Homo sapiens: one gene and its partners. The protein of the gene in region 2 interacts with the protein of the main gene of each other region in a biochemical or structural test. Each region holds a gene or a part of one and is shown on either strand. Other genes may lie near its edges. The genes, in order: MAGI2, KIF17, RAPGEF6, PDZK1, PDZRN3, HTRA1 and TJP2.

Region 1 (3,500 bases), on a different chromosome or scaffold from region 2:
CCTGCACTGGAAAGATTAATTTTGTTTTACTTAACTGCTTGTGAGCTGGCCTTATAGCAGGTTAAGAAAGTGTCCTTCTGGCTTATAGGGAAGCTGTAGAGCCAGGAAACCATGTGGAGGCCCATCTTCAAATCAGGGCTAGACGGGGTAAGAGGAGGCTGGTGCTAGATCACGGGGAGGGCTGCCAGTCTCTGGTGTCAGCCCTGCCTGGGTTTAAATTCCAACTTGGATGCTTCCCAGCTGTCAAAGGATTGTGGTAGTGGGGAGAAACAAAGACATGATGTGCATGCCTTCTGCTTTTGGACTGTGGATAATCCTCTGACTTGGAAATGCGTATCATAGAAATGCAGACTTGGTGGTAGAAATAACAGATTCAGCCATCAGGGAAAATTGGTTGGTGAGGCTCTGCACAAGAACCTGAGGTTCCGGAACCCCAAAGCCACAGCTTTTCTTTATTAACTTAAAGAGGCAGGAGGGAGGGCAAGAATAAATTCTAGATTTTATTCATACACCGACACACACACACACACAAACACACAGAGAGAGTAAAGAGACTAATATTTTATATTGTTAACAAGCTTTGTTTTATACCCTTAAATGAAGAATCAGTTACCCATCAATCAGATGCCTCAAAGTAATTATTAAATGAAAAAATCTACTCTTAACTTTAATTGGAAAATTTCTAGCTGCTGTCTTTTTTTTTTTTTTTTCTTGAGACAGATTCTCACTCTGTTGCCCAGGCTGGAGTGCAGTGGCACGATCTTGGCTCACTGCAACCTCCGCCTCCCTGGGCTCAAGCGATTCTCCTGCCTCAGCCTCCTGAGTAGCTAGGACTACAGGCGCCCGCCACCACGCCTGGCTAATTTTTTTGTATTTTTAGTAGAGATGGGGTTTCACAGTGTTAGCCAGGTTGTTCTCCATCTCTTGACCTTGTGATCCTCCCGCCTCAGCCTCCCAAAGTGCTAGGATTACCGGTGTGAGCCACCACGCCCGGCCCCTGCTGTCATTTTTAAGAACAACCTGTATCCAAGAAGCCAAATCCCTTTTACTCCTAATGCTTCTGTCTGCCCAGTATCAAACCAAAAGACCAGTCAACACAAAGGAAAAATTTCCTAAAAGTCCCGCAAAACCATGTGATTAATCAATATGGGGGAAAAAGCACAAAACTAAAAATAAATTTCAAAAGATTCAACCTTAATCAAAACAGAATCATCAAACCATAGAAAGAATTATGGAGAAATAATGTTTCCTTTTCAAGCTATTTCTTAGATTTCTTTCATTTGCTCTTTAGAAAAATAGTACTTTACTGAGGTTAATCAATTAGAAGGTCATAAGCAGAAAAATGAGAATGAGAGATATTATAAAATAGCAAGTGGCCAGACTTTTAAGAAACTGGGTCATCATCAACTAGAAAGAGGGCAAACCTACAGCAACCCCGCTTGACAGCATGCTTCAGTACTCTTCCAATACCACAGTCGGTTTTTCTTTCAGAATTAAGCAATTCTATAAAAAGAGACTGTTCTTACCCTCATCCTCCCATTCCTTATTGCTGGTCCATCTTCTGCCAGTCTCAACACATACAAATCCATTTTGTATTCCCTTCCTCCACGAATGCTGAATCCAAATCCTTTGGCTCCTTTCTCCATGTCCACAGTGAAATAATCAAAATCCTTTGGGGTTGGGGAGAAAATGGAATAAATAATTATTTAGTTATCAGAGAAGCTTCTGTGGCTAGTCTCTGTGTTCTCCTTCTGTCTCTTAGTTAATGTATTCCAAATGACATGATGTTGGGAGAAGTCGTAATCTGGCTTCATAAACTACCCAAATGAAAGACAAAATTCCAAAGGTTTGAGCAGGCCAGAGCACAGTTTACTTGGTCATCAAAGAATTACTGTGTAGCTTGTTTACTTTGGTATTCATCAGTTTACTTGGCAAACGTGGAATGATTACAGATAGGCCTGAGTGACATCATCTCTCCTTTTACTTCTCTCATTCACTGCTATTGAGCACCATAAATAAATGTCAGGTGTGTGTGTGTGTGTGTGTGTGTGTGTGTACAAATTACAGAGTTTGCTGATTAGAAAAGTAAAATTTAGTGGGATCTGATAATTAGATCTCTCAGTTGCACAGACTATTGAATATCAAGTTGGAATGTACAAAATCAATTTCTCTTTTACCTAAAATGCAGTATGTCCAAGATTCTCTGATCTTCACTATTCTTAAAATCTTTGGGCATAAAGTTGATCTTCAATTCATAATAAAACACAATGTAATCTGATAGAGTTGAGATTGTACTTAATTTATATCTTGGTATGTAGTTACGAAGTAGGAAATATTTTCTAGATACCAAACTCTGGTCTAGACTCTTTTCATAAATGTTGAATCCTCATCCTGGCCTGTAAGGAAGACTCTCCCTTTAGGAAACTGAATCTCAGAGAAGTTAAGGAAGTTGACATGAAGCACATCAACAAATAATCATAACAACAGTGACACTGGTTGTGTAGACAGAGAGTTGTTGGCTGTGGCAGGCGCTACACTCTGGATTGTGAAGCCAAGCCTGGTCTTATTCTTACGCACAGGGGCTTGGCCCTTTATCACAGAGTGGCAGGTAGGGGGCCACGTAAAAAAATATGGACCTAAAATACCTCCACTGCTAGCATCTATAAAATTTTCTGCATTAGCAGCACTCTCAGAGGTCCCAGGTTAGAGCATTTTTAAAACTTTGACAAGGAAACGTACAAGGAGTTAGCTAGTATTAGCAGGGATTAGTTTATTCCATTACTACTCATCCGCTATTTATTTATGTATTTATCCATATTTATTTATTGTCCTGCTTTATTCTGAAATAGATTTATTTATCCAGCATGTTTCTGAGGATGCAGGTGTTACCCCGATGTTACCAGAACTAGGAATAGAACTTCAGCTCTCCATCCCAGACAGGTACTCTTTCCTCTGCCTCTCCTATTTCATTCCTTGCAGTTCTCTGGAAGCCTTGGTCAGGACCCACCCTGCTCTCCGGGAGGAGGTACCTGGGGTTGTCTGTAGTCCGACAGAGGGTACTGCCTGGTGTCGGGGGAGTGCTGCCTGTAGTCCAGTAGGGGAGGCTGCCTGTAGTCCAAGGGTGGGGGCTGCTGGTAGTCCCCTCCTGGGGGTTGCCTGTAATCCAGCGGGGGCTGCCTGTAGTCTGTGAATGGAGGCTGTCGGATGTCTGGTTTCACATCTTGCCTTGCTTTCACTTCCGACCTGTAACTAAATCAATGGAAATGGGATTTGCTTTTGTAACTCTGCATTCTAAAGAGGCTAGAGTGATCACACGGCCTCCAGAGGTGGGCCAGCCATGACAGCTCACACAAACCACTCCTCTCGGTGGTCCTGTTGGATGCTCAGGATTATGAGAAGGTTAAATATTATTTAAAAATCTCTGACAAATGCCATATTGTATGCTTTTTATTTGGCTCCTTACGAAGTCAAGGTAAAAATGATGGTTCAACCAGAACCTT
Region 2 (3,500 bases):
CATGGGCGACAGAGCGAGACTCTGTCTCGAAATAATAATAATAATAATAATAATAATAAATAAAATAAAATAAAATAAAATAGAGGCCGGGCGTGGTGGCTCATGCCTGAAATCCCAGCACTCTGGGAGGCTGAGGCAGGAGGATCACAAGGTCAAGAGATCGAGACCATCCTGGCCAACCCGGTGAAACTCTGTCTCTACTAAAAATACAAAAATTAGCTGGGCATGGTGGTGCGCGCCTGTAGTCCCAGCTGAGGCCAAGGCAGGAGAATTGCTTGAACCTGGGAGGCAGAGGTTGCAGTGAGCCAAGATCGCACCACTGCACTCCGGCCTGGTGACAGAGCGAGACTCCATCTCAAAAAAAAAAAAAAAAAAAAAAAAAAAAAAAAAAAAAAAACAACCACCACCACCCATGCTTTAAGAACATGCATTTCTGTTGCACTATAAAATATAGGAGATAGGTCTTGCCACTGAGCTTAGAAAAAGAAAAAAAAAAAAAAAGACAGAATATGAGAGACGGGAAAATAAAGTGACTTAGGAATCCCAATTACTGCTTCATGAACCCTGTGAGGACCCTCTTGGTCTGAGGATTACCAGCAGGAAACCAGAATGTGCTGCTTGTCCTCTGAGTTTGAGGCTGAAGTCTCTGTCCTTCACCGGCAAGATGGGCCACCGAACCATCTACTTTCCCTTGGTATTTATGACTGTGAGTACCTTTGAATGAGGGCCAGAGGGGGTTGAGGGTCTAGGTGCCAATGGAGGGGCATGAAAAGGATCCAGCCTTGGCCCCTTCTTTAATCCTTAGGCGGGAGGAAAGTGGAAAACCAGCTCTCCACAGTAACACTGACCCACAGCACTGGGGGCAAAGCCCTCCCAGCCCCCGACACCCCACTCCCTCTCCCGCGGTCCTCACCATGTTCGGCTCGCCATTGTCTGCTGCAGAGGTTTTGCGGGCTGGTTTGTTCTGTGGCCCAGTTGAAACTGCTATGAGAAAACAAAAGCTGAAGTCACTGCTGCCTGGTGCAAGGCCTAGAGGAGGGCACAGGTGGAGGTGGGGGTCAGGCCTGGCTCAGGCTTAAACAGGGGAGGACACTTCCCAGCCCAAGCCAAGGGATAATTTTAAGAAACAGACAGCAGGAGGGGCTCAGGCACCAGAGAAGACCCTCATCTGCTTGCAGGCAAGACAGCAGCCAAGGGGCTTCCAGGCAAGACAGCAGGCGAGGGTGGGGACAGACAGGAAGGCTGCTGCATCCCAGAGCATGTGGGAAATGGAGGCGGGCTGGGGTCTCAGCAGGGATGGTGTCAATAAACATCAGAGATGTTGGACCTGGATGAACACGCTGAGCAAGAGGGAGGACTCCTGGGGGGCACTGCGGGCTCCCCAAATGGGCAGAGTCAGGTCCACGGCTGGAGAAAGAGCCACAGCATGTCTGGCTTTACTCTGAGACTCATCAGAGGTGAGGAGGCTTTCAAGGTCATCTGATCCAACCCCTTCTTTGTAAAGAAGCCCAGAGAGGGACAGTGATCTTCGGAAGGCCATACGGGAGGTCAGCAGCAAGAGCGGAAGTGGAACCAGGCCTGAAACTCTGAACTGTGGGTTTTGATCCATGGTCCTCCCACTCACTGCTGTGACTGTGACTTTGGACCCTCTGAGATTGTGTCCTCCTATGTGAAATGGGTAGAAAACCTGTCTTCTCAGGGCTGTCGTAAGGATGAACCAGTGACAATGCTGATTAGGATAACAATGACATGCAGCGAGCATCACTATGTGCCAGGCACTGCTGTAAGGGTTTTCTGTGTATTAACACATTTCTGGTTTTTGTTTTTTCGGGGTTTGTTTTGAGACAGGGTCGCACTTTGTTACCCAGGCTGGAGTGCAGTGGCACGATCTTGGCTCACTGCAGCCTTGACTTCCCAGGCTCAAGCGATCCTCTCGCCTCAGCCCCCATAGTAGCTGGGACTACAGGTACATGCTGCCATGCCTGGCTAATTTTTCTATTTTTTTTTTTTAGAGACAGGGTTTCACCATGTTGGCCAGGCTGGTCTCGAACTCCTGGACTCAAGCAATCTGCCAGCCTTAGCCTCCCAAAGTGCTGGGATTACAGGCGTGAGCCACCATACCTGGCCTATTAACACATTTCAAACCTTACAGCAACTTTAAGAAAGGTGCTGTTATTCATCCCCATTTCACAGATGAAGACACCGAGTCCCAAAAAGGGCACACAGGGAACGGTGCTGCCAGAATTCCAACCCACATCTGTCTGCCTCCAGAACACACCACTTTCTCAGAGTCCTGACGCATCAGGTACCCAGGGTCACGTGTCTTCTACACCCACAGCCTGCAAGGAGAGGCCCACACTCCCTGCCAGTCTGCAGGATGGTAAGCCGTGAAGGAGGGAGGGGAGGGCAAGGGCCAGCCAAGCTCCTGACCTACTGGGAGGCTGGTTTTTGTGATGACGGGATGTGGGATCTTCCAGAAGCCGTTATCTTCGTCCCAGCAGGACTCACGCAGAATCTTCTCCAGGTTGCTGTAGTTACAGTCCCTGCGAATCAGGGGCTGCACCTGCTCCAGGAGCTGCTGCAAGAGCATGGAGTCACGCTCCTGCCGGCGGATGGTGGCCAAGTAATCGATCTTCTCCAGCTGAAACTCGGACTGCAGATCTTTGATCTCCACCTCTGCTGCCCGAAGCTGAAAGCAAAGGATGACAAGCAGTGAGCAGGGAAAGATACCTCCCCTTCCATCTAACCACCCTGTCCACTCACTGTCCTGCCAGCAGCCACGCATCGTCTGTTCATTGGCCTGATCAGCCATCCATTCTCATCCCCACCATCCATCCAGCCATCCTTCCCTCCATCCATCCATCCACCTCCTCTCACACCCACTGATCCTTCCGTCTATCCAATCACCCTGCTGTCTCTCCACCCAGCATTTAAATGAGCACCTAATGTGTCCCCCCAGCCCTGCAAAATGTAGGGGAAAAGTTGATCAGCAATCCCAACAGCCAGCCCCTCAGTCACTATCTCCCATTGTACATTTTATTCAGGAGCCTTTGAGAAGTCCCCACATCCAACACCACCGTTCTAAAGGATATCAGAGAATTGCACAAGTGACATCTCTAAGGAGGACAACAGGCACAAACTCTCCGACTTGACAATCCTCACTCTCCCACTGCCACAGCCCTGTGTGACGGTGTGACAAACACTGGACCTAAACAATGGACCTAAGAGTAAGACCCACCTTGATCTGATCAAGGGTTCCAGATTCTTTTGGTCTCCTGCTCAAGTCTGCCAGACCGGTCCCCCGGTCCCTCCTGAGCACAGGTGACTGCCAGCCCCAGCCATAACCACCCTCTCCCTGAGCCCCAAGACTACCTGGTGCACAGTCTGTTTCCTCAAAGAGCAGGTACAGTCTGATTAGTAAAGAAGGATGTTTGAGGCAGGGCGTGGTGGCTCACACCTGTAATCCCAGCACTTTGGAAGGCCGAAGCGGGCGGATCACT
Region 3 (3,500 bases), on a different chromosome or scaffold from region 2:
ACAGAGGCCTTATGGCCTGTGAAGTCTAAAATGTTTACTATGTAACTTTTATAGAAAACATTTGCTGACCTCTGGTGTAGAGATCCTAGTTTAGAAATCTTTATAAATGTGGTAATAATTTATCTTAAATTTTTCATATTAAAGTAGACCAGATTTCACAATATTTATCAGTTAGAATAAACTTTCTCAAAGATTTCCACGTTGCTTGATTCTAAATAGAAATTTAGAGTTGATTTTTTTTTTTAATTAACCTTTGCTAGGTGATTATTCTTACTCCCCAAATTACACTTTCAGAGGACAGAGATCAAGGGCTAGTCCTACTCTCCCAACCTGTCTACAATGTGCACAGCACTCGAGGCACTTTCCAAAACACAACCTTTTTGATTAACCTATAGCCAGAATTTCAAAAATTATCTCCCCTATATAAGTAGCAGATGCACTTTGAGTTCTGACTGGAAAGATACATAATGATAAAAAGTTACTTGAATTTAGTAACACTTTAAAAATGAACACCCATACATCTTTCAACATAGTGCTTATTTACATATTCAGAATAGAGAATATGTGCTTGGCCCACATATTCTTTTATGGATAACTCTGCAATTACCCCATGGGAGGTCCAAGGTCAAGGTGGGGAGCACTCCTTGCAGTGGCCACTTGGCTTGGGTTTTGTGTTATGAACACAGACAATGATGCTTACCCAGGGCCATGTTGACTATGATCTCCTATCCCTGAAGCGTGCTCTGTCTTTTCCAATGCCCCAGTGGATTCAGGGACTGCCAGGGCCTGAGAGGAACACCGTTCATCCTGTAGAGCTGCAGACATGGAGTCAACAGAACAATTGCTCACGATGCTGGACCGTGAAGAAATCTCACTATGGCTGGAGTCAGACAAGTTGTCAGATTTAGCTGATGGAATAAGTGTGTAACCTGAACAAGAAAAGAGCACTGATCAAACTACAAAAAAAGGGAACATATGGTGGGGGTAGTAGGGGAAAGGATGAAAAAAAAAAACCCCACAAAAATAACAGAAGACAAAGTAGAAGCAATTTTAGTTTCCATCTATGTAGATATAATGGTGCCAATTTTCTCCACACATTCCCCTACATAACCATTTGCCTACTATCCACACCACACCAATACAACTACACATTCAAGAAAAAGACAGTCAAAGTCCAGTGTTACTCAGAAAACTAGTTTAAAGGTATATCTTTCTCAGGCTCTCCCACAGCTATAATCATTTAATAAAATAAGAAGATTACAAATATTAATAAGTACATGTCTTTAGGGTTTCTCAACTTCTTTTTAACCCAACGCTCCTTCCTTTGATTAATATGAATATTTCTTGACCTGATCTGAATCCCAAATACCATCTTGAAGTAAGGGTAGGGGTGGGAGTCCAGGACTCAAGGGAAAGAACTACATTTTTGCTTTATCAAACTATATATACTTACCCCATATATTCTGCATATCCCACCTAAGAAGTCTTGTCTTGAGTTGAGAGTCACTGTTTTAGATTATTTTTATTTTTTAGACACAGGGTCCTGCTCTGTTGCCAGGCTATAGTGCAATGGCACGATCATAGCTCACTGCAGCTTCGAACTCCTGGGCTCAAGTGGTCCTCTTGCCTCAGCCCCAAGTAGCTGGGACTACGGTCTGCACCACCACACCCAGTTATTTTTAAACTTTTTGCAGAAATGAGGTCTCATTATGTTGCCGAGGCTGGTCTTCAACTCCTGGCCTCAAGCGATCCTCCCGCCTCAGCCTACCAAATTGCTGGGATTACAGGTATGAGCCACCATGCCCAGCCTGTTTCAGTTTTTTAAATTGTTTTAGGTTTAAACTTAGTGTCATACTTAGTTTCCTTTTTCTTCACCAACCTTGCAGAATATTAAACAGCTGAGTGGATACATGTTTAATAATGTGTTATAGAAAAAAACAGCATCTACATGTTCTATGTTGTTCTGTGACTTACTGCACAGCAGACAACTAGAGAGATGTTCTTCTGTATTCTAGGGACGCACTGAGGTGAAGGACCCAAAAACAAATCTGCAACAGAATGGCTAATGTACATAATAATCTATTTTGATAACTGGAAGAAACCAAATTTTTGTTTAGAAATAAAAGAAAAAGAAAATGCCCTAGTAATCCCAACAAGGGACGGGTCTCAAAGAAGTAAAAAATATCTTCTTGCTCACAGAGGAAAGTAGGGTTTAGTAGATATGTGACCTTTGGACCAATACCTAGAAATGTCATTAGGAAGAATTACAGGCTTTGGGTATGTTACTGGAATTCTCAGGGCCTCATCTTCATGCAGAAAGAGGATGACAACATCCTTAGTTCCAAGTCTTTCTCTGTTTATGGATCTTGGAGTTATTCACATATAACTCAAGTCATTTAAGGAATAATTTGTTGCACAGTAATCTTATTAAGTCGTTTCGTTAACTATTTCAAAGAGAAAAAGGCCTAGAAAATGTGTGATTTATATTTGGCCTACGTGGACAGGAACAGGGTAAGCCAAGACAAGCCAGTCTTCTGACGTCTATCATACATCTCTGAACTTGGGATCACTGCTATTTGTCAATGTCCATGAGCTGATTAGTCAATTTTTAAGAGGACCAAGAAAGTGGATGTAATAAGTAAATTAAAAATAAATAAAAACCTTCTTCTTGAAAAGAAAAAGTCATTGCTCTACACAATAATCTTGCTTCATTGTTTAAAAAATAATTTCATTCTTATGTCTATTTGATCAGTATTTCTCAAATATAATAATACTAAGAACCACCTGGCAAGCCAATTAAAATAAACATTCCAGATCCCATTTCTGGCAATTCAAGTTTATGAAGTCTGGGGTGGGACACAGTAATTGCATTTTTTAACAAGTTTCCCAGATGATTCTGATATTGCTATGTTAGACTAGTCCCTTCTCCCCCAATCAAAGATACGTAAAAAGTAGAAGATAAAAAAGCCTCCTCTACATATTTCACTCACAGATCCAGCTAACAGTAGGAAATAAAGTCAACTACAGAAAACAAGAGTATAAAATTTACTAACTCAATACATCAGTAAAATAACTTATGTACAAATGAGGCATTTTCAAGTGTTTATAAATAGTATTTTACTAAGTTGTCTGCCTAAGCTTTGACAAATGGTTTAATTTAAGCCATGTATACATTAATAACTGAAAACAAACTTAACACTAAAATTAAATAAGGAACTTCATCAGAGTGTCTTCCTCCTTTTAGACTTGAATCGCGTATAGAAGCAGTTTAAAGTGTTACTGTTGCCTTGGCTATTTGAATTGAAGATGGCACTCCCTTTCTCATCTTTGATGTTGCTTCCAACATCCTTCACTTTCTCACAGCTTTCTGTAGCTTGATTGTGATCTGTGTCCTCTTTTTGGCTGTTGACTAGTCTCTCCCTTGAAAGCATTCTTTCCCTAAGTCTTCTAAACGGGGATGTCATTCTTTTTCTGGTTGTGTTCTCACAACTTGTCCTGTC
Region 4 (3,500 bases), about 130 Mb from region 2:
AGAGAAAAGAAAGAGGAAGCAAAAAGGAATAATCAGAAAACAAAATGCCAAAATTTTAGTGTCATCAAAACTAAAAGAAGAATTTTAAGATGGGATAGTTAACAATGCCAAATAATGCTAAGAGGTAGAGAGAATGAAAACAGAAAATGCCACTGACATTCAGAAAATGGAAGTCTGGGCCTGATAAAACACTAAGAAGCAAGTGGATACCAAGTAACAGAAGCAACGAATATTGATATTTTATTTTTTGAGACAGTCTCGCTCTGTCACCCAGGCTGGAGTGCAGTGGTGCGATCTCAGCTCACTGCAACCTCTGCCTCCCAGATTCAAGCAAGTCTCCTGCTCAGCCTCCTGAGTAGTTGGGATTTCAGGCACCCGCCACCATGCCCAGCTAATTTTTTTTTTTTTTTTTTTTTTTTTTTTTTTTTTTTAGTAGAGACAGGATTTCACCATGTTGGTCAGGCTGGTCTCAAACTCCTGACCTTGTGGTCCGCCCGCCTCAGCCTCCCAAAGTGCTGGGATTACAGGCATGAGCCACTGCACCCAGCCTGGATGTTTTTATTTTTAACATTAAGGAAACGATCAGCATGTTTCTGTATCAAGAGATGATATGGAGAACATGGAAACTGGGGTTAGCCTTGGTGAGAGGAAATACCTCTTCTCCAGGGGCAGAAGAGAAGTAGAAAAAAATATGATAAAGAAGAAAACAAGGTCACTTACCTCAGCCTCAATCTCTCCTACGAAGTAGCTGACAAAAATCAGGAACTTGGAGAATATGGAGCAAAAGTACCACAGAAAAATAATCTCTAGGGTCAAACAGGTAAATCAGCGAAGGTGGCCGAGAGGGGACGGAGGAAAAGCTGCTGCTTTTCATGAGAAGACAACTGCCTGAGGAAGAGGAGGCCAGCATGCCACCTTTCAATTTTCAAGAGACTCTGGAAATCTAGATTTACATAAAATGTCCCCATTTAAAAAAACTGACAGCTATTTCAAACTTAAAAGAAATTCTATGTAAACCAAAAGAGAATGGAGCCCCCGAGCTGGCGGTGAACTAAGACAGTGAACTAATGGCCACAGCATTAGCTCACTACAAAGAGTCAATGAATTGAATTAAAATGTCTAAGAAACAACTTAGGTTAAAATATATATATATAATAAACTTGCAGCAGCATGGGTTCCCATGGATTTTTCTTACAGTAATATACATCAAGAATAGAAAAGGAAAGTGGTAACTTTTACCCTAAGTTGGGGCTAACATATTTTTAAAACATAAGGGTAGGCCAGGCGCAGTGGCTCACACCTATAATCCCAGCACTTTGGGAGGCCGAGACGGGTGAATTACTTGAGGTCAGGAGTTCGAGACCAGCTTGGCCAACATGGTGAAACCTCATCTCTCCTAAAAACACAAAAAACATTAGCCAGGTGTGGTGGCAGGCACCTATAACCCCATATACTCCGGAGGCTGAGACAGGAGAATTGCTTGAACCCGGGAGGCGGGAGGCGGAGGCTGCAGTAAGCCAAGATTGCACCACTGCACTCCAGCCTGGGCGACAGAACGAGAGTCTGCCTCAAAAAATAAAAAATAAAGGCCAGGTACAGTGGTTCATGCCTGTAATCCCAGCACTTTTGGAGGCCGAGGCAGGCGGATCACCTGAGGTCAGGAGTTTGAGACCAGCGTGGCCAACTTGGCGAAACCCTGTCTCTACTAAAAATACAAAAATTAGCCAGGCTTGGTGGTGGGCATCTGTAATCCCAGCTACTCAGGAGTCTGAGGCAGGAGAATCACTTGAACCCAGGAGGCAAAGGTTGCAGTGAGCTGAGATCACGCCATTACACTCCAGCCTGGGCAACGAGTGAAACTCCATCTCAAATTTAAAAAAAAATAAAATAAATTTAAAAATTAGCTGGGCGTGGTTGTGCGTGCCTGTAATCCCAGCTACTCAGGAGGCTGAGGCACAGGAATCGCTTGAACCCGGGAGGTGGAGGTTGCAGTGAGCCAAGATTGTACCACTCACTCCAGCCTCAGTGACACAGCAAGACTCCATCTCAAACTAACAAGCCCATAAGAGTAGGATGTGAGGATTTCTAGATTTACAAGGGGCACAGAGCTGGAATGTCAGACTGTGGGGCCAACATGAATTGGCAGATAAGAGGAGCTAGGAGTTTGGGATTGGGAAGATGAAATGTTTCAGGGACTAGCTTAGCAGCATGAGTTGGGAAGAAAGAAGAAGGGACTGTGGAAGCAGTTTCAAAAGTTAGTGGGTTGACACAGGAAAAGTTATCTGAAAAGATCTTTAGAGCAGAATAGTTCCCCATGATGCAATTCTAAAGGAGCCAGATGTGTATACAAAAGGGAATCTGTATTTTTGTTTCCATCTTCCCCCAGGATCGATTCTGAGTAAGGTAGAGTAGAAAGAGCAAGGGTTTTAGAGCCAAACCTAGTTTTTAATCCTGGCTTCACCGCTTGTTAACTGTAAGAACATGGGTGAGTTCCTTAATTTTGAGCTGAAGATAGAATACCCCTAGAATAGGAAGCACATGTGGATGCCGTGAAGATGGCTCACAGTAGAGCATGCAAGGCCTCTCAGCACAGTTTCTGGAGCATAGAAGTCCACTCCATCCAAGTTACTCTTTCCTGTCCTCTGATGAAACGCCTGATGCAATGGGAATCCCATTTTCTGTGAGAATATTTGAAATTTTTCCTGATTTTCTTTTTGCAGAAGACAGGAAGAAATTACAGACTAAGAATGGGCAGGCACCTCAATGATCAGGCAAGGGATTCTCTATCTACTCAGTCCAGATCACTTCTGCGAAGCTAATTTTAGCTGCTGAAAAGTCAGGGCTGGAGATTTTGTTCCCCATGAAAGAAAGCTCAAATAATAAACTCTGGACTCAAAAGTATCCTGTAAGTCTAAAAGCCAGGGAATTACAAAATAGAACCAAATGCTGTGTATCAAGGAGGTAAAAGAGTCCAGGGAGCTTTAACAGAATTTCAAGACTAAGCTGGCCAGAGAGTTCCACCGCCTGGAGTGGATAAGCTCTAACAGAAGTGAACATAGGGACCCAAGGAACAGACAGCAGTGGAGAAGATGGAGTGAGTGAAGCATTACCTTAGCTATAGATACCTGGCCCAGAGAGGGACCTTCATAGCCAAGGAGTAGCTAGTGAATAGGCTCACTCACCAGACAGCATCACTGAAATGCCAAAAGATCAGAGAGAGGGCATGGGATAAACAGCATTCTGCTTGGAGGGAGAAAGACAGAAGGGGGCTGTCACCAGCGATGGCCAGATGCAATGAAATACCATCAGGAAAGAAACAGCCCAGGTACTGTCATCTCTGCTCATCTTCCAAGGTCTGGGACTTAGAAGTGGCAGGATTATTCCATAAATATAGTCATCTACACCTGAACCCACCATCACCTTATCTAATAGTAACTAGGAATCAATTATGCCGTCAGTATCACACCACGAAGACAACAGAGCCTCTCCCCACAAGGCAC
Region 5 (3,500 bases), on a different chromosome or scaffold from region 2:
TAATGGTCCTAATGGCTTGTGAGCTCCTTAAGGGCAGGCAGAGTGGTGACTTCGTGATTTTGCATTTCTAGGGCCAAACAGTATATTTAATGTAAGAGACAATAAAATGAACAGAATTGAAAATAAACACGAATATAAAGTCTGATGGCATCCAAGGTCTAGCTTAAAATATTAATACCAGACTAGTTTTCTAAACACCTGCGTTGTGTCTGCTTTTATTCATGAAAAGAGAGAAGCAGTCTTAGGAACACAGTGTCACATGCCTACGAGGGGCTCAGTCGTTCCTAGGCCCTGATAATGTTACACTGCAGGGACAGTGTGGACAATATTCGTGACTTGGCGGCACATCTCGACACTGCAGTGAATGAAAGGCACCACAAAAGCCTCGCTGGTGTGACTCAAGAGAACAAGAGGAAATGATAGCTTGGGCTGCTTTATCTGGGTCTGTGGCCTGTAGGTCAGGGGTCCTCTGGCTTTAATGGGCACCGAGGTACCTAGGAACCTTGTTAAAGTGCAGATTCTGATTCTGAAGATCTAGGGGGCCAAGTTTCTGTAGTTCCCACATCTCCTAGGTGAGAACTCTACTTTGACCAGCCAGGCTGCTGGTCCTCCTACCACACTTTGAACAACAGGGTTCTAGGGAACAGTTTCTGAGTGGCTCCCTCCTGCTGAAAGCAGGATGCTCTCAGGTGCTTCATGCTTTGAGGAGAAAGACTCAGTCTGGGCTAGTCTTAACACTTCTTTAATACTAGCTAATCTCCTTAGAGAAAAGGCAGGATGTAGTGGCCCCAGGCTCCCAACCCTCAGCAGGCACCCTTATTGAGCACCAGGATTTAATAAATAACACTGGCTTGTGTCCACTGTATTTAATTGTATGGGATTTTCTATTTAAGGCAATGGATGCTGACTTTCTGCTTGACGCAGTGGTATAGTGTTTCCTTTAAAATAAAATTACCGTAGTTTAAATAAGTTGAGTCGAATTAAAGAGAAATAGAAAGCACGTAAGAGTTCTGGTGATAGTCAGGTATAAGGAAAAACTGTAAGGCAGAATGGCCCAAATTGGGCAGATACTGTGGGGGCTCAGTGAATCTCCTGAAACCATATGCAAGCTCTCACAGACAGGAGCATTTTTCCAGAGCGGGGGGCTGTAGGTTCCATCAGATTCTCAAAGGTATTAGAAACTAAAAAAAGAACTAAAGAACCCACTGCTACAAAGTCAAGTTTAACTAAATACCAAAGACTACAAAGTCTCTACTACTTCATAACTCTAGCTTCTGAAACACTTTACAGCTTTTTAAAAGAACTCTACTTTGCCACAATTACATCATCAAAAAGCAGTGTCGTCCCATAAAGATTACGAAATAGCCCTCTGTTTGGAGAGCAGTGTTTCTCCAACAGTGTTCCAGAGAACTGTAGACTGAGGAAATATAAACAGGTACTTGGCCAGAGAGGTGGGGGAAATTCTGCCCACTCCCCCAGGGGATTCTAGGTAGATAGTCAAGATTCTCAGAAGTCCTCCAAGAAATCTGTTTCGTTGTCTTCAGTCTGGCATTTCCCAAATGTATTTCATTATGAACCCCCTTTGGAAGGAACATACATAACAAATTAAGGAACAAGTGTCCTGAAGGAGTCACGGCTGCTTCACCAAACAGCCCTGAAGCTGGGGTGATAGGACACTAAATAAGAGGCAGAATCCTGATTTTTGAAAATGACAAAACTACATTTTCTGGAACAATTGTTAAATGGCAAGCGCTTTGGTAAGTGGCTGACAGCAAGCAGAAACAGTCAAGTTTTTATAGTGAGAATACTGGCCATTGCTGTTTAGACCAGGTGCATTTAGGGAAAATTTTAAATTTCTGAAAACTGGCACAGAGTCAGTCATGCCACTGGCAACAAGTCCTTTGATTTGACTGTATCTGGCTAACCATCAGTGAAGTCATCGTTTGCACACAATTATTGATTTTTAACTTCTGTCTTGGAATGAGAACTCTTGGTAACTTTAAGTTGAGGAACATAGCTGTTTTCTACTATTTGACTGCTTCTGTCCTTGCACAGAACCTACTGCCACTGAACAATTCAACTTCAGAAGTATTGGTAGGACAGCATAGATTACACAACAGTTAGCCATGAAATTGGATAAAATGTTCGATTTTTCCTGGGTGACCTTTTGATGGTACCCAAGGGCTTACCTGTCAACATCAGGTGTCTTTTTACCTTATTCCATAAAATCAGCTTTCAAAAATGCTGTTATATTTTTTGAAACCCCATTGAAATATAAAAGTGTTTTCCCCAAAATATAAATATATTATACAAGTTAGTGTTTTCTGTATTTTCTATCACCCTTAATAAAAGGAAAATGGGAAGTAGAACTCTGTTGGCAACCTGGTGTCCTCTAAATATTTTAAACCTTAACAGAGACCTATTTGACATTATGTAGCATCTTGAATCTTTATTCCTGTGTGGCCTCAAATAACACTTAAGAAGAGTTGCAGACTTGTTTAATTTCTTCTGTATCAATGTTAGCAAACTTGAAGCAAGTGAAGCAGTGAACAAACCCTTTTGTTAGGGCGGGCTAGCATTCACTCAAGTAATTTATCCACCTACTCTTGAGCCATCTGCCTTTGAGTAAAGAGTGGTGATGACATAAAAGGGAGGAAGGTGAGGAGGCTTATGTTAGTTACAAGAATGTATGGATTATGTGGATTCAAAGGTTGACAACAGGATTTACTGTCCTAACTTTTAAGTGATTCAAATTAAAAAAAGTTTACATTTCTGCTTTTGGGACTTGATTATTAAGCTCTGTTTCCAAGGAAGGAAGAAGAATCTCAGTTGTGCCTTTCAAAGGGCATCAGTAAAAGTGGTTCTGCTTTTGTTACTTTCCATCGGCATCCGTAAACTAATTTATGCTTATAGAGAACTTATTAGGCATTCTGTGTTCTTAATAATGACTCCTAAAATGAGACAAGGATGTTCTTCATACCTCCAGCTCCAGCTCCTCCCTGTCCATCTCCTGATGGATGTCTCCAATGTAGTCATTTGGATCGTAGTATTCATGGGCTGAGGGATGCCTGAAAAGAGATGCAACATCTTTACAGCCCTTCTTCCGTTGTCAGTATCTGTTTTTCTTACACCCATTGTCAGGCCAGTGGCACAGTAGCAATTCCCAGGGTGTGGGCCCTTTCATGACTCACTTCCCTCTGGATGGGGCTCTCAGCACGGTCAGGACCTCCATCATCCTAATTTTACCATTTGCCTTTAGTACATTTCCTCCTGAAGGACTTAAGATGCAAAGTGCAAGCCTGATGGGCTTTGTTGTTTGCAGAGCCCATCCCGGAGCCTGCCAGTCACGTGATTCAGCGTGACTGATTTCTAACTCCATCTCTACGCAGGAAACAGGACAATATTTTACTGCTTATTGCTTCATTGTTAGATTTTATCTCTGCAGAGAACTAGGCTCGAGCCCAGGCAACAGTCTAAGATATGTGCTGGCCTCTGAGATC
Region 6 (3,500 bases), on a different chromosome or scaffold from region 2:
AGTGGCGGTGAAAGCTTCGGAGGTTATAGGAAAAAGGAAGGCTCTCTTTACTTGCGAAACAATTCGATATGAACCACGGCAGGGGCGATCTTCTCCACCACGTCCGCGATAAAGTTATATTTATGGCGCAAACTGTTGGGATCTTCCTGCCCTGAGAACAAAAGCAAAGAATAGATACTTAATGACACTCTGCTGTGGCCACCTAGAGAAAGACATGGGTTAGAGGAAGCCAAGATGCATGCCCAGCCTTTGGAATTCTGAAGGCGGAGTGAGCGCAATTCCCCCACCTGGGCTCAGCTGCAAATGTCCATCCACCTCCCAAGGGAGTGCCCACCCAGGTAAGGCAGTAAAATCCACTAATGATAACCTCTTTGCTCAGGTTCACCACAAAAACGTTGAGCAGAGGCACCAGCAAATGCTTCAACCTCACACCAGCCTTTCCAAGAAGCTGATGGCCCAAGTTTGTTTTTTGTTTTTTTTCAGTTTATTTTTAGATGGAGTCGCACTCTGTCACCCAGGCTGGAGTGCAATGGCGCAATCTTGGCTCATCACAACCTCCACCTCTCCGGTTCAAGCGATTCTTCTGCCTCAGCCTACTGAGTAACTGGGATTACAGGCACCCACCACCTTTGTATTTTTGTATTTTTACTAGGGACCGGGTTTCACCACGTTGGCCAGGCTGGTCTCGAACTCCTGACCTCAGGTGATCCACCTGCCTCGGCCTCCCAAAGTGCTAGGATTACAGGCGTAAGCCACCACACCCAGCCAAGGGTCCCTTTTTGATGTGGCATCACCCTCTGCCTGCGTCCCTTCCCTGAGTCCCCACCATTACAAAGAAGCAACAACCCTCCTGAGAAACACCGCAGGAGCAAAGAGCACCGGGGCTTTTTCTAGGAGAGGCCCACCAGACGGGTACATCTGAGATTATTACGAAGAAACACGAAGGCAAAGGGGCAGCTCCTATCTTTCCCACTGACACCCCAAGGCAAGCTGAGGCCATCGTCTGTCCCCAAAGCAGTTTCCGCCATGCCTTAACCACACGTTCCAACCCTGCCCGGGACATCCCAGACAAAAGGCATAAGAGGTGCCTTAAGACTGTGGGTGAGAAAAAGAGAAAAATCAAACAACTGTAATGCTTTATACCTACAGTCATGCACCACATAACGTTTCAGCCAGCCGCGGACCATAACACCATTGTTTTTACTATACCTTTTCTATGTTTGAATACACAAATACTCACCATTGTTACAACTGCCTACAGTATTCAGTACAGTAACCTACTGTACGGGCGTGCATCCTAGAAACAACAGGCTCTGCCATCTGGCCTAGGTGTGGAGTGGGCTCTGCCATCTAGGTTTGCGTAGGCACACTCTGTAACATTCCCACAGTGATGAAATCGCCTAACGACGCATTTCTCAGAACGTATCCCTGTTGCTCAGTGATGCATGACCGTTTATATTACAGTGAGTGGCCCCACGTGGTGGGCGTTTCCAAAGCTACTTTCAACAAAGCTGTCACATGTCCCGATGTGAGGCTCTCACCCAGCAGGGCTACAAGTTAGTTTCCATCAACCAGAGGCACATACCCAAGGTAACTGATTCAGAAACGGACTGCTAGAGATTCAGGGTCCTGGGCTCCCATTTTCGTGGCACGGGTGGTGGCAGAGGCAGTGTGTCCCTGGAAGTGCAGCCTTAGCCTACTACTCCGGCTCCTAATCTTGCCACCTGCTGCTACCTCTTAACAAGTCTCTGCTAAAGCAGGCTGGAGAGGTTCCAGGCTGGTCTGCAGCTGAGAGCCATGCACCCCATTCTTCCCCCTTGGACTAGCTCAGCGTTGCACAAGCAGGCTCCAGGGACCCGCACTCCTCTGCTAGCTGCTCACTACGAATTGACAGGAAGCTTTCGGAAACTTTCATAGCAATTTCACATGGTAATCTTATGTCTGTTGCACTGAAAAATGAGTAACTGGGGCTTGTATTTCCTGTCTCACATTTTGTATTTTGTAGGTATTTTGTGTCTCATTTACCAACAGGCCTGTGTGCCTGCCCCTAACACACATGCATATATACACAGAGATGCAAATGCACACACACACACAAACTCACACATACACACTATGCATACACACCCACAGATGTACATGCATAAACACACCCACACATACACCCACATTTACACACAAACTGTCACATAAACACCTATACACACTTCCACACACATTCATATACTCACAGATGTGCACATACATACAGTCACACATATATACATGCAAATGCACACATACATACAGACGCATACACACACACACACACACGCCTCTCTCATCACTAGAGTGGCAACCCTTCCCCAGGCTCTAGGCTATAAGTAAAAGCTGTGAGACGTCCCAGCCCTCTTGTGACCCGTCACAGCTTCACACCCACTGGTTCCCACATCCCTGCTGCACTGGGTCACGAAGGGCCATAGTAACCCAGCTTGACACCATGGGGCACAGGGACATCGGGAGGACCACCTGCCTCTCCCACGCTTGCTTTCTTGGAAGTGAGAGCGCTTCTGTGAACAAAGGGCCGTTTTCTGTCCTAGCCCCTGACCTCTGAGTTGCTTTATTTAAAGATTGGAATCATCTCCTTTTACATAGCATGGTTTTTTTCTAAGGTACAGAAAAAGATCTGCAACTACTTGGAAGAATAATTTAACAAATTCAGAACAGTATCATATTATTATTTTTGCTTTCAAAACCCTTTCATTGGCTGCCTTAATTTAATTTTTTCTACCTTCATGTGGAATAGGAAAATCAGGTATCCTTCCCATATTATATATGGGGAAACTGAGGCTCGCAGACTTTAAATAACTTCTCCATGGACACTGAAGTTTCTTAATAGAGAGTATAAGTAACAGATCTGGGCAAGCCCTCCCAAGCCCACAGTGTCACCAGATCTACAGCTTCTCACTTCAACACTGGCCTCCTACAGATCTGCTACCCTCCTAGGTTTCCAGGTAGTTGCAAATAATTGGTGTGTCCCCCCGAGCACTCCAATGGGAGGTGTAAATAAGGGAATGGAAATGTTCCTTCTGAAAACAGAGCCTGGCGAATGTCACCAGACAGCTGTAAACAAACGCATCTGGGCTTCCTCAGACCAGCTTCCTGGGGAAAGGCCAAGAAGAGGTTTAACTCCAGCCAGGCCAGAACACAGAGACAGCGTGGTGTTTCAGAAACTCTCACAAGAAGGACCATTACCAGCGCCTTCCCACTAAGGATCATTAACTCACTTCCTCTTTCTGGCTTCCTGAATTAGGTATGGGAGAATTTGCCCACACCAGGGGCAAAAATGAAGATGGATTGAAGGTGGATTTTGCTGGGTAAAATGAGAGGCAGTTCCCTTCTCACACAGTCACATAAAGTGGTTCCAGGGTCTTCCCACCAGGAAAGCAACAAGGGAGATCAAGGAGGATCTGGCCTGGCCACTGGAAGGCCCAGTTCCAGCCTCAGTCCACTGAGCAGCC
Region 7 (3,500 bases), on a different chromosome or scaffold from region 2:
TAACTATTTTTCAAGGAGTCATGAACACAATTTCAAATTCTCCATTCAGATTAATTAATTATTTCTTCTACTCTTCAATTCTTTATTTCTCATTTTTTAGCAAAGGGACTACATTTACATTTCACTTACCTGTAAAAAGGTGTGCACACGTTTTTTTAAGCTTGTTGGCTTGATCAAATAACTTTCGAGAACTTTTGTTGGACGTTGGATTTAACCTTTGTCTCATGGTTTTGACACCTTGTCTGGAGTCTGGGTTGAAAAAAATCACAATTGGGAACCACTGGGTGTAATTCAACAGGTCCACAGCTTTCGGAGTCACATCCAGTAGTGCATGCTTATCCTGTTTACAAAAGGGGAAAAGTTAGAGAAATGGATATATAAAGTAATATAGCATCAAATACTTTGTTTTAATAAGTAAAGGCTGTATGAGATATATCTTGTTTGTTTGTTTGTTTACTTATTTGGGATAGATTCTTGCTCTGTTGCCCAGGCTGGAGTGCAGTGGCACAAACTTGGCTCACTGCGACCTCCGCCTCCCGGGTTCAAGCAATTATCCTGTCTCAGCCTCCTGAGTAGCTGGGATTACAGGTGCCCGCCACCACCATGGCCAGCTAATTTTTGTATTTTTAGTAGAGACAGGGTTTCACCATGTTGGCCAGGCTGGTCCCAAACTCCTGACTTCAGGTGATCCGCCCGCCTCTGCCTCCCAAAGTGCTGGGATTACAGGCATGAGCCACCTATCTTGTAAATTTAAATCAAGAAGCAGAACACATTTCCTTCTACCTAATGCCCACTTCAATATTACCAATGTGTTAGAACTTCTGATAAAATGAATTAACACATTATTTGGTATAATGCTGGGAACTCTGGAAAAAAAAACAGTATGTTACTGCCAGAGAACAGTAACAGTGACTGGTTTCCACACAGTGAAATGGTTTGCATTTACATTATATATATATTTTTTTGAGATGGAGTTTCACTCTTGTCGCCCAGGCTGGAGTGCAATGGTGCAATCTCCGCTCACTGCCAACAGTGACTGGTTTCCACACAGTGAAACGGTTTGCATTTACATTATATATATATTTTTTTGAGATGGAGTTTCACTCGTCGCCCAGGCTGGAGTGCAATGGTGCAATCTCCGCTCACTGCAAACTCCGCCTCCTGAGTTCAAGCGATTCTCCTGCCTCAGCCTCCTGAGTGGCTGGGACTACAGGTACCTGCCACTGTGCCCGGCTAATTTTTTATATTTTTAGTAGAGACAGGGTTTCACCATGTTGGCCAGGCTGGTCTCGAACTCCTGACCTCAGGTGATCCACCCGCCTCAGCCTCTCAAAGTGTTGGGATTACAGGTGTAAGCCACTGTGCCCGGCCAATTTTTTATTATTAACATTTAATGATTAAAAGTACAGATACTATCCTAAAAGTGACTGCAGCAAACCATAATCTAATTCTTTCTGAAAACACGGTCTGTGGATGAATTTTCTCACCTGTTCAATAATTTGCCTCACGGTATTTAACCGGACCACTCCAGTGGATTTCTCAGATCCTGCATCTTTTGGTTCCGTTTCTGCAAAAGCAAAAACAGGAAGCTAAATAATTGTTTAGAAAACAGTGACAACCAAATACTCCCACCTAGCATCAAGCAATGATGGCACACCTGACATTAAGTGTCTCCTAACAAGATTCAGTGGGAAGGACCCACATAACCTGCTTAGTGGAAATCTAATCATGAAGAAACGGTTAGGCCAGTCCAACAGGAAGCATTCTAGGAGACAACTAGCTTGGATTCTTCAAAATATCAGTGTAACAAAGTTATTTAGAAAAAAGAGGGGACTGGAAAGACATAAAAATCACAAAAAGACATAAAAATCAAATGTCATGAATGGTCCTTGGTTGTATTCTGAATTTAAAAAAAAGCTATGAAGCACATAACTAGGACAATTAAGAAAACGTGGAAAATGGACTATATACAAAATCACACCACATCAATGTTACCTTTCTTGGCTGTGATAATGGTATTGCAGTTATGTGGGAGAAAGTCCTTGTTCTTAGGAGATTCACACAAGTATTCAGGGATAAAGTGTTATAAATGATTCTGCAGAAATTTTTCAAAGAGTATGTGTATGTGTGTGTGTATGTGTGTCTATGGTGCAGGCAGTGGGTGAGAGAAAATGCGTGACAAAATGTCAGCAACTGGTGATTCCAGGTGAAGGGTACGTGGGTGTTCATGATTCTTCCAACTCCTCTGTTAGAAATTTTTCAAAATAAAAATTTGGGGGAAAAAAAAACACTGACAGACTTACTAGCAGTTTGAAACCAGTCAGGTAACTCATTAGCCAATTTTTCCATTGCTATATCAGCTATGGGGCCGAATAAGACCACAGGTCTCTTGAAACCAGCTGAAATGACAAGAAAGGCCATTAAAGCATACACACTTGCCTAGCTGTTATGATAAGCAGTAAAAGTATTGTATGGGCTTTTGATAACATAACTAAACGAAAGAAACTGTGGTTTCTCCCCAATTCAGCTTGGCTCTGTTCTGAAGAATATGCCTTCACTATCCTCACCATTTAAAACAATTTTTTTCTTTTCATTCAACCACATGCTAACCTAGATTTTTTTTTAAGAGACAAGATCTCACTATGTTGCCCAGACTAAACTCAAACTCCTAGGCTCAAGCCTCCTGAGTAGCTGGGACTACACTGCCTAGCTCCTCACCATTTTTAAACACAAACTTTCCCATTGATAATATATGGAAACTTTTTTTATTTTTTGCAGAGATGAGGTCTTACTATATTGCCCAGGCTAGTCTTGAACTTCTGAGCTCAAGTGATCCTCCCACCTTGGCCTCCCAAAGTGCTACGATTATAGGCATAAGGTACAGTGCCCAGCCAATATACCGAAACTCTTGAACAGTGGTATTAAAACATTTTTTAAGTTGCAGAAATAAGCCTCAATTTAGGAACTGAAACAGCTTTTTATAAATCATGCTCCTTGTTAGAATTTGATTTCAACTCTATAAACTGCCTTTGGCATAACTGACATACATAAGTTAGAACTTGACCATACAGTCTGAAAATAAAGGTGAACAGGCTCAGAGCCCAGTCAGTTCATTTCCAGGCCCCATGTGACTTCCTCACCTTCTCGCAGCAAAACCCTCTCATAAGCTGGGAACTTGGTGCTGACAGACACAACAGCTGTGAGGTCTTCCCGACTTTTCCTCAGGTTCTTCTTCACCCCAGACCTCTGGCCACGCATTCTCCAGAAATCTGCCCGGTCCCCAGCGTTGTCTCTCTGGGCATTTTGAACACTGGCCATTTGTTCAGCTCTGAGAAGAAACCACGGGAAGTAAATCTCTAAAGCCAGAAAACGCAGCTAACATGCATTTCATTAATCAAATCCAGTCAATTTTACTTCTGAGCTCAGAGAAGATTCCGCTTGACAATGAAGAAGTTTCAGAGGGTGGGAAATGTGGGGACCTTCACTTCCAAATGGGAGCA

What was found.
Region 1: the proteins of KIF17 (region 2) and MAGI2 interact in a test that uses a peptide from one of them, tested with the Homo sapiens proteins (one large-scale study listed by IntAct).
Region 3: the proteins of KIF17 (region 2) and RAPGEF6 interact in a test that uses a peptide from one of them, tested with the Homo sapiens proteins (one large-scale study listed by IntAct).
Region 4: the proteins of KIF17 (region 2) and PDZK1 interact in a test that uses a peptide from one of them, tested with the Homo sapiens proteins (one large-scale study listed by IntAct).
Region 5: the proteins of KIF17 (region 2) and PDZRN3 interact in a test that uses a peptide from one of them, tested with the Homo sapiens proteins (one large-scale study listed by IntAct).
Region 6: the proteins of KIF17 (region 2) and HTRA1 interact in a test that uses a peptide from one of them, tested with the Homo sapiens proteins (one large-scale study listed by IntAct).
Region 7: the proteins of KIF17 (region 2) and TJP2 interact in a test that uses a peptide from one of them, tested with the Homo sapiens proteins (one large-scale study listed by IntAct).

What each region holds. Positions count from the first base shown.
Region 1 is NC_000007.14:78,124,168-78,127,667, forward strand, and holds part of MAGI2 (membrane-associated guanylate kinase, WW and PDZ domain-containing protein 2), read right to left. Parts: intron 3,250-3,500; coding exon 3,030-3,249; intron 1,671-3,029; coding exon 1,527-1,670; intron 1-1,526. UniProt on the Homo sapiens protein: Seems to act as a scaffold molecule at synaptic junctions by assembling neurotransmitter receptors and cell adhesion proteins. Plays a role in nerve growth factor (NGF)-induced recruitment of RAPGEF2 to late endosomes and neurite outgrowth.
Region 2 is NC_000001.11:20,669,508-20,673,007, forward strand, and holds part of KIF17 (kinesin-like protein KIF17), read right to left. Parts: intron 2,690-3,500; coding exon 2,431-2,689; intron 985-2,430; coding exon of another isoform or gene 982-984; coding exon 914-981; intron 1-913. UniProt on the Homo sapiens protein: Dendrite-specific motor protein which, in association with the Apba1-containing complex (LIN-10-LIN-2-LIN-7 complex), transports vesicles containing N-methyl-D-aspartate (NMDA) receptor subunit NR2B along microtubules.
Region 3 is NC_000005.10:131,432,730-131,436,229, forward strand, and holds part of RAPGEF6 (rap guanine nucleotide exchange factor 6), read right to left. Parts: coding exon of another isoform or gene 3,222-3,500; exon of another isoform or gene 3,032-3,221; intron 930-3,031; coding exon 701-929; intron 1-700. UniProt on the Homo sapiens protein: Guanine nucleotide exchange factor (GEF) for Rap1A, Rap2A and M-Ras GTPases. Does not interact with cAMP.
Region 4 is NC_000001.11:145,697,369-145,700,868, forward strand, and holds part of PDZK1 (Na(+)/H(+) exchange regulatory cofactor NHE-RF3), read right to left. Parts: intron 1-3,500. UniProt on the Homo sapiens protein: A scaffold protein that connects plasma membrane proteins and regulatory components, regulating their surface expression in epithelial cells apical domains.
Region 5 is NC_000003.12:73,397,942-73,401,441, forward strand, and holds part of PDZRN3 (E3 ubiquitin-protein ligase PDZRN3), read right to left. Parts: intron 3,069-3,500; coding exon 2,981-3,068; intron 1-2,980. UniProt on the Homo sapiens protein: E3 ubiquitin-protein ligase. Plays an important role in regulating the surface level of MUSK on myotubes. Mediates the ubiquitination of MUSK, promoting its endocytosis and lysosomal degradation. Might contribute to terminal myogenic differentiation.
Region 6 is NC_000010.11:122,485,553-122,489,052, reverse strand, and holds part of HTRA1 (serine protease HTRA1 precursor), read right to left. Parts: intron 152-3,500; coding exon 52-151; intron 1-51. UniProt on the Homo sapiens protein: Serine protease with a variety of targets, including extracellular matrix proteins such as fibronectin. HTRA1-generated fibronectin fragments further induce synovial cells to up-regulate MMP1 and MMP3 production.
Region 7 is NC_000009.12:69,236,777-69,240,276, reverse strand, and holds part of TJP2 (tight junction protein 2), read right to left. Parts: intron 3,329-3,500; coding exon 3,141-3,328; intron 2,400-3,140; coding exon 2,304-2,399; intron 1,568-2,303; coding exon 1,488-1,567; intron 341-1,487; coding exon 130-340; intron 1-129. UniProt on the Homo sapiens protein: Plays a role in tight junctions and adherens junctions. Acts as a positive regulator of RANKL-induced osteoclast differentiation, potentially via mediating downstream transcriptional activity.